Linked DNA regions of Homo sapiens. The gene in region 2 interacts genetically with the main gene of each other region. Each region holds a gene or a part of one and is shown on either strand. Other genes may lie near its edges. The genes, in order: STK11 and BAG6.

Region 1 (3,077 bases), on a different chromosome or scaffold from region 2:
ACAGTGTCCACCTGGGCAGGGTGGGCAGCCCCAGGCCTGTGGGTTTCACCAGGGTGCTGGTGATGGTTGGTGGCTAGCAGGGACTGGGGGCAGCTGGGGGCCCTGGCAGGCTGAGCTCTGCTCCCCGCGTGGTTCTGTGCTGGCATTTCGCGTGCCTGGCCTGAGCCTGGCCCGAGCCTGGCCCTCCTGTGTCCTCACAGATGAGCATGTGGCGGCTCCTGGGCCTCTAGAACCAACCATGGGCCAGGGTGCCCCAGGGGAGCACGGGAGGGTCCTGCCTTGTCAGCTTGCCTCCTACTCGTGAGGTTCCTGCAGTCAGTACCTGGGTGGGGTCCCACCTGCGGCCATGGCAGGTGCAACAGACGTGGTGGAGGGGACACTCCTGCCCAGGCCATCTGCGGGAGGCTCAGCCCCGGGGGGTGCCTCCCAGAGCTGCTGGGGGGCAGCATTTCAGGCTGGATACACCTGGGCCTGACCCGGGGGCGGGCATGGCCTGGGCAGCAGCTGTAAGTGCGTCCCCGTGGTGGGGGCCAGCCAGGTCCCTGTGGCTCTGGGGTTGCGCCCCTCAGCTCAGGCCACACTTGCCGTCTCCCTCCCAGGACAGGTCCCAGAAGAGGAGGCCAGTCACAATGGACAGCGCCGGGGCCTCCCCAAGGCCGTGTGTATGAACGGCACAGAGGCGGCGCAGCTGAGCACCAAATCCAGGGCGGAGGGCCGGGCCCCCAACCCTGCCCGCAAGGCCTGCTCCGCCAGCAGCAAGATCCGCCGGCTGTCGGCCTGCAAGCAGCAGTGAGGCTGGCCGCCTGCAGGTGGGGCGCGGCGGGGCCCGGGTGGGGCATGTGGGGACAACGCCTGGATGCCACAGCCAGCCGTGAGCATAGCCCGCGCTAGTCAGTCATGGTGACCGTCACGTGGCTGCGCGTGGTTGCCATGTGGCCTTTGGGTGGCTTGGCCACGTAGCGATCCCCGTGGAGGGTGCCGTCTCGGGGCCTGGTGTCTGGCCAGCGTGCTGGTCATGGAGGCCTACGTGTGGCGGGGCTCTGGGGGGGCGTGCCGTCCTCACAGCCACCTCTCAGAGTGGGTGCATTCCGAGGACCCTGCCCTGGGCCTGGCGCCCCCTCCCCATGCCCGCGCCGCTTCCAGGAAAGGCTTATGCTGGGCTCAGCCCAGAGGCTTTTGAGCACCAGTGGGTGGTGGGTGGTGGGGAGGGGCCGCGGCCTCCATGGCTCTGCCGGGGTGCCGCAGGCTCTGAGCCAGCTGCCAAGTATGGCTGAGGCTGAGTCGTGCCGGACGCTGCCCTGTCTCTCCCTGTGTGCCTGCCTCCTCTCCCAGCCCCAGCCCCAGCCCCGGGTGGGAGACGGAGTCCCAGAGGTGTCAGAGACCCTTAAGTCACCTGCCGAGGATGCGGGGTGGATGGGGGCCCGAGGCTGAAGCCCCTGCCTTGCCACAGCCCCTCTCCCAGGTTTTGGGGGCCACCGCCTGAGTTACATGTCTGTCCCCCAAATGGGTGCCCACAGCCCATCCACCAGCGTCAGAGCCCGCCAGGCCCCACTGCAAAAGGCCACACAATGTACCCCGGGAGTGACTCAAGGGTGGCCTTCCCTGGCCTCCCCTGCTGCCCCCCAGGAGTCCGGTAGCCCCATGACTGTACCTCAGCTTCTCCATCCTCCCAGGGGCCCGCGGGAGGCGGAGAACCGGTGCCCAGGCTGACCTCTTCCGTCTTCCTTCCACCCTGCAGCCCGTGTCCAGGAGCCCCGCCAGGTGCCCGCGCCAGGCCCTCAGTCTTCCTGCCGGTTCCGCCCGCCCTCCCGGAGAGGTGGCCGCCATGCTTCTGTGCCGACCACGCCCCAGGACCTCCGGAGCGCCCTGCAGGGCCGGGCAGGGGGACAGCAGGGACCGGGCGCAGCCCTCCCCCCTCGGCCGCCCGGCAGTGCACGCGGCTTGTTGACTTCGCAGCCCCGGGCGGAGCCTTCCCGGGCGGGCGTGGGAGGAGGGAGGCGGCCTCCATGCACTTTATGTGGAGACTACTGGCCCCGCCCGTGGCCTCGTGCTCCGCAGGGCGCCCAGCGCCGTCCGGCGGCCCCGCCGCAGACCAGCTGGCGGGTGTGGAGACCAGGCTCCTGACCCCGCCATGCATGCAGCGCCACCTGGAAGCCGCGCGGCCGCTTTGGTTTTTTGTTTGGTTGGTTCCATTTTCTTTTTTTCTTTTTTTTTTTAAGAAAAAATAAAAGGTGGATTTGAGCTGTGGCTGTGAGGGGTGTTTGGGAGCTGCTGGGTGGCAGGGGGGCTGTGGGGTCGGGCTCACGTCGCGGCCGCCTTTGCGCTCTCGGGTCACCCTGCTTTGGCGGCCCGGCCGGAGGGCAGGACCCTCACCTCTCCCCCAAGGCCACTGCGCTCTTGGGACCCCAGAGAAAACCCGGAGCAAGCAGGAGTGTGCGGTCAATATTTATATCATCCAGAAAAGAAAAACACGAGAAACGCCATCGCGGGATGGTGCAGACGCGGCGGGGACTCGGAGGGTGCCGTGCGGGCGAGGCCGCCCAAATTTGGCAATAAATAAAGCTTGGGAAGCTTGGACCTGGCCGTCTGGGTTTTGTTCGCGTCTCAACGTGGATGGGGCGGCAGCGGGGCGGGCGCCGTTGACATGCGGAGGGCAGTGGGGACTCGGGGCGCGGGAGGGCCGGGGCCGGCTCCCTCAGGGCCGGCGGCAGCAGCGGTGGCGGCGCGGTTATTGCTCGGAGGCGGCGCGGGCTGCCGCCAGCACACGCCGCAGTGAGGTAAACGGTCTCGGAGGTCGGCAGTCACGGTGTTGAGCCGCCTCCCGGCCCAGGGCGGCGAACTCGTCTGCGACCGTTAGCGCCCCGCGGCCCCCGCCCGGGCGAGCTCGCGCACGCGCCCGGCACGCGGCGGCTCCATCGGGCCCAGTGGGCTGCGCGACCCTCGGGTGGCGGGCCCTGCGACTAAGCGGCCGCCCCGTCCGGGACTGAGGGCGAGTGATCGTTGTCCTCAGGAGCCCGAAGCTGAGAGCCGTTCACGCCCCTTCCTTCCCGCCCAGCCGGGGTCTCCGCGGCCCGCGC
Region 2 (4,002 bases):
ACAAAGAACAGAAAGTGAGGTGAGAATGAAGACACACGGAAATAATACGGCATCAAGAGGGCACAAACCAACGGGTCTGGGAAGATGGGGAGTTACATTCTGATCTTCACTGCTTAAAGCAGAAGTATGGTAGGTATTTAACAGAGTCAGGCAGCACAACTTACCTACCTCTTCCTCTGAACAGGCTGTCAGAAAGCAGTGACACTAATTACTATACTTTCTTTTTCTAAACCTCATTTTCTTCATCTTTAAAATGAAAGGTTCAGAGTCAATGAATTCCCAGGGCCCCTTCCCCTAACATGTCACTAGGGGCTCTTACCCAGTGGTTATATAATGGCAAGAAGGTACCACTGCCTGGCTGGGCCGGGGGACAGGAAGATGAGGTGAATGGCAAGCCAGCCACTCACCTGCAAGAAGTCAGTCATGCCTTGGAGAAAGGCAGGGACACCAGGCATCGCCACAGTGATGGTGGGAGAAGCCACACCAGACCCTCCAGCCCCTGGCCCTGCAGGCCCTAGCAGGTTCCCCAGAAGCTGAGAGAACTGAAGATCAGCCATGGAGGGTTGAGGGGTGGGTGGAGGCTGGGCAGGCCCCCCAGGAGCGGGGCCAGCTGTGGTAGCTGTGTTGGTGGTGCCAGCACTGGCAGAAGCAGTGGCAGGGGCTGGCGGTGGAGCCATACCTGGGGTCCCCTGAGCTGTAAGAAACCAAAAAAAGAAAGCTGGGCTGAGCATGGTGGCTCTTGGCTGTAATCCTAGCAACTTTGGGAGGCCAAGGCATGAGAACTGCTTGAGCCCAGGAGTCTAGGCCACATAGCAAGACCCCATCTCTACCAGAAAAAAAAAAAGACAATTACTAGCCAGGAGCTAGTACTGCTAGCTACTCAGGAGGCTGAGGTGGGAGAACTGTTTGAGCCCAGGAGTTCAAGGTTACAGTGAGCTTTAACTCACTGGATTGCACCATTGCACTCCAGTCTGGGTGACAGAGCAAGACTCTGTAACTTAAAAAAAAAAGAAAAAAGCTGGCCGGGCACGATGGCTCAAGCCTGTAATCCCAGCACTTTGGGAGGCCAAGGTGGGTGGATCACAAGGTCAAGAGTTCGAGACCATCCTGGCCAACATGGTGAAACCCCCTTCTCTACTAAAAACATAAAAAATTAGCTGGGCGTGGTGGCGTGCACCTGTAGTCCCAGCTACTCAGGAGGCTGAGGCAGGAGAATCACTTGAACCCGGGAGGCAGAGGTTGCAGTGAGCCAAGATTGTACACTGCACTCCAGCCTAGCAACAGAGTGAGACTCCATCTCAAAAAAAAAAAAAAAAAAAAAAAAAGCTGAAACCTGAAGACACAAGACACTACAGCAGCCCCATTCCAGGAAAGCAGGAACCAAGAAAATATGGAAAGAACTGGAAAGTGCCAGTGAGCAGACTAGGAAAGGAGTTTAAACTCTGAGTGGGGAAGAATGAAAACTCACCCACAAGGACTGGCTGCATAAGAAGCTGCCCCACAAGGCCGCTCACCATCTGGGCCAACGAGGCATTGGTACCCAGACCGGCGCCCTGCTGGATAGAGAGCAAGGGAGAATTTCAGACCTGCCCTTCCATGCACCACCACAGGAGTCTCTCCCTAGACTGTTACGCACTAGAACTCCCCGACCCTTGCTCACCAGTGTCCCAGAGACTGGGGGCCCTCCAGGATGGGAAGGCCGAGCCTGTGGAGGAGTGGGCCGGGCAATCACCACCCGGGTTGGAGCTGTTGGGAAGCCTGGCACCTGCTGTCCTGTGGGTGGCAGAAGAGACAGACCGAAGAGGGCTGAGGGCCAGGCCCTTGCCAGCCAGCTGCCACCATGGACTGTGCCCTACCTCCCAAGCCTCCCCTTCCAGGTCATTACCTGCGGCCGCGGAGGCAACAGCTGCCACCATGGCCTGATGAGTGATCTGGTGGGCGACGGCGTGCATGAACTCAGGGGGCAGGGAGGGCAGCTGGATGAGGGTGGAGCCTGGGGGGCGGGTCTGATGTAACCTTGAACCTGGACCCCTTCAACCCACCCACTCAGCCCTTCCCTTTCTCTACCCAGAGCTCAGCCTGCCCTGATGCCCTCACTCTTACCCAGGGTTTGGCCATGACCAGGGGGTCCCAGGGGGCCAGTGGGAGCACTCGGAACACCACCAGGCTGTGTGCCAGAATCTGGGCAGGGAGACAGAGACAGTGGCCCTGAGGTAGGTAGGGCCAAGGCCTAACTATATCCTTCTGAGATCAGGCATACTTCAGGCCCATAATCCCCCAATCAGAAAGCCTGCCTTTCCCTCCATCTAAACAGGGAGAGGTACTCCCTTCACCACACAAACACACCTCCAAAGACAAACCAACCCCCACACCCCCCACATCTGTCTACTTAAGCTTCTGCTCTGGTCCCCAGGCTACCACCACCAGCATGTGCCTCTCCCTTCCCCACCCTGTTCCCTCACACCTCAGCATGAACCTCCCTCATCATGCTGATCCTGCTCTTCTCGCCAGCAACTATTCTCACCTTGAATGTTCATGTGCATCATGACCACGGGTTCCACACTCTGGTGGGAAATCCGGATGACCCTCGGGTGGCTGGTGGCTGGCGGGGGAGCTGGACCTGGCGGGGGAGCCCCCTCAGCTGAGGACTCGACATTGGTAGAAGACGGAGCCACGGATGAGGCCTGCCCAGGACCAGGGGGAGGTGCCTCTGCATTGGGAGTTGGGGGGGGCCGAGTCCCATTTCCTGTCATGGTCACAGTGGTTCCCACATTGATCTGAAAAAGACAGATGGACAGGCAGATGTGAGAAAAATACAAGAGCCTAACCAAGAAAACCTCATGATAAACCTCTAAAGTATCTCCAGCCTTCATCACCATGTTTCCAGTCTCCTCCTTTCCTAACCTCCTTCAGGCCCAGTAGCTACCCTGGGTCACTCTATCAACACCCCTCACTCTCCCTCAGGCCAGACTCCCCCTAACCCACCTGTATGGGAATGGCTGCCTGCTGGAGCACCATGGGGGTGGTGTAGTGAGACATAGGCCGGACCACATGCAGGTGTCGTGGGGGCGTGCAGGCCAGATTGCAGCGCAGGTCAGACAGTGCAACAAAGGTGTTGCCCAGCAGTCGCAGGCTCTCCCCTACCAAGTTGATCAACCGCTGATCCTCCTCCCGGCCCTCGTGCTGCGCACAACCAGCCAAACACAAAAAGGCAGAAAATATCAAGCTGGAGTCCATCTCACTAATAAAAGCAATAATGCCTACTGAGAATACCATGTCCTCCAAAACTTTCAGTTATATCCTTGGAAGTTTACATGTAGACCAAATCTTTGCAAATAAATTATATCTTATTCACATAAGGAACATCCTATTAAAACACTACTATGAATCAGTAAGTCATCATATACTGATCTCCTGTACTTTACATTTTCTAAATTCATTCAGGGGCACAAGGGGTACGATACGAGGACAGTGCTTACAGCAAAGATTATCACCTTCTCTGTAAGGGAGGACAAAATCACTTACAGGTTTAGAGAGAAATTGTTTTGTTGCAATGTGTGTTTTTTTGTTTTGTTTTGTTTTTTGAGACAGTCTCGCTCTGTCACCCAGGCTAGAGTGCAGTAGTGCAATCTCGGCTCACTGCAACCCCCTCCTCCCGAGTTCTAGCGATTCTCCTGCCTCAGCCTCCTGAGTAGCTGGGATTACAGGTGTGCACCACTACATCCAGCTAATGTTTATATTTTCAGTAGAGATGGGGTTGCACCATGTTGGCCAGGCTGGTCTCAAACTCCCAATCTCAGATGATCCGCCCACCTTGGCCTCCCAAAGTGCTGGGATTACAGGCGTGAGCCACTGCACCTGGCCCTGTTGCAATGTTTTTCCAGGGAGGGAAAGAGTTATCTGCATTTCAGCCTGTTCTGTTTTGGGAGTACTGGGGCTGAGGAGAAAGGGCAGGGCCATCAAAGGGCTCACATTGTTATTGTAGTCCGTGGTGGCAGCAGC

What was found.
Region 1: changes in BAG6 (region 2) and STK11 together harm fitness more than expected from each alone (negative genetic interaction), as found in Homo sapiens cells (one large-scale study listed by BioGRID).

The regions. Positions count from the first base shown.
Region 1 is NC_000019.10:1,225,855-1,228,931, forward strand, and holds the end of STK11 (serine/threonine-protein kinase STK11), read left to right. Parts: intron 1-599; coding exon 600-793; 3' UTR 794-809; intron 810-1,738; 3' UTR 1,739-2,577; downstream 2,578-3,077. UniProt on the Homo sapiens protein: Tumor suppressor serine/threonine-protein kinase that controls the activity of AMP-activated protein kinase (AMPK) family members, thereby playing a role in various processes such as cell metabolism, cell polarity, apoptosis and DNA damage response.
Region 2 is NC_000006.12:31,642,422-31,646,423, forward strand, and holds part of BAG6 (large proline-rich protein BAG6), read right to left. Parts: coding exon 3,973-4,002; intron 3,184-3,972; coding exon 2,986-3,183; intron 2,778-2,985; coding exon 2,525-2,777; intron 2,209-2,524; coding exon of another isoform or gene 2,182-2,208; coding exon 2,104-2,181; intron 1,994-2,103; coding exon 1,886-1,993; intron 1,774-1,885; coding exon 1,661-1,773; intron 1,557-1,660; coding exon 1,469-1,556; intron 695-1,468; coding exon 408-694; intron 1-407. UniProt on the Homo sapiens protein: ATP-independent molecular chaperone preventing the aggregation of misfolded and hydrophobic patches-containing proteins.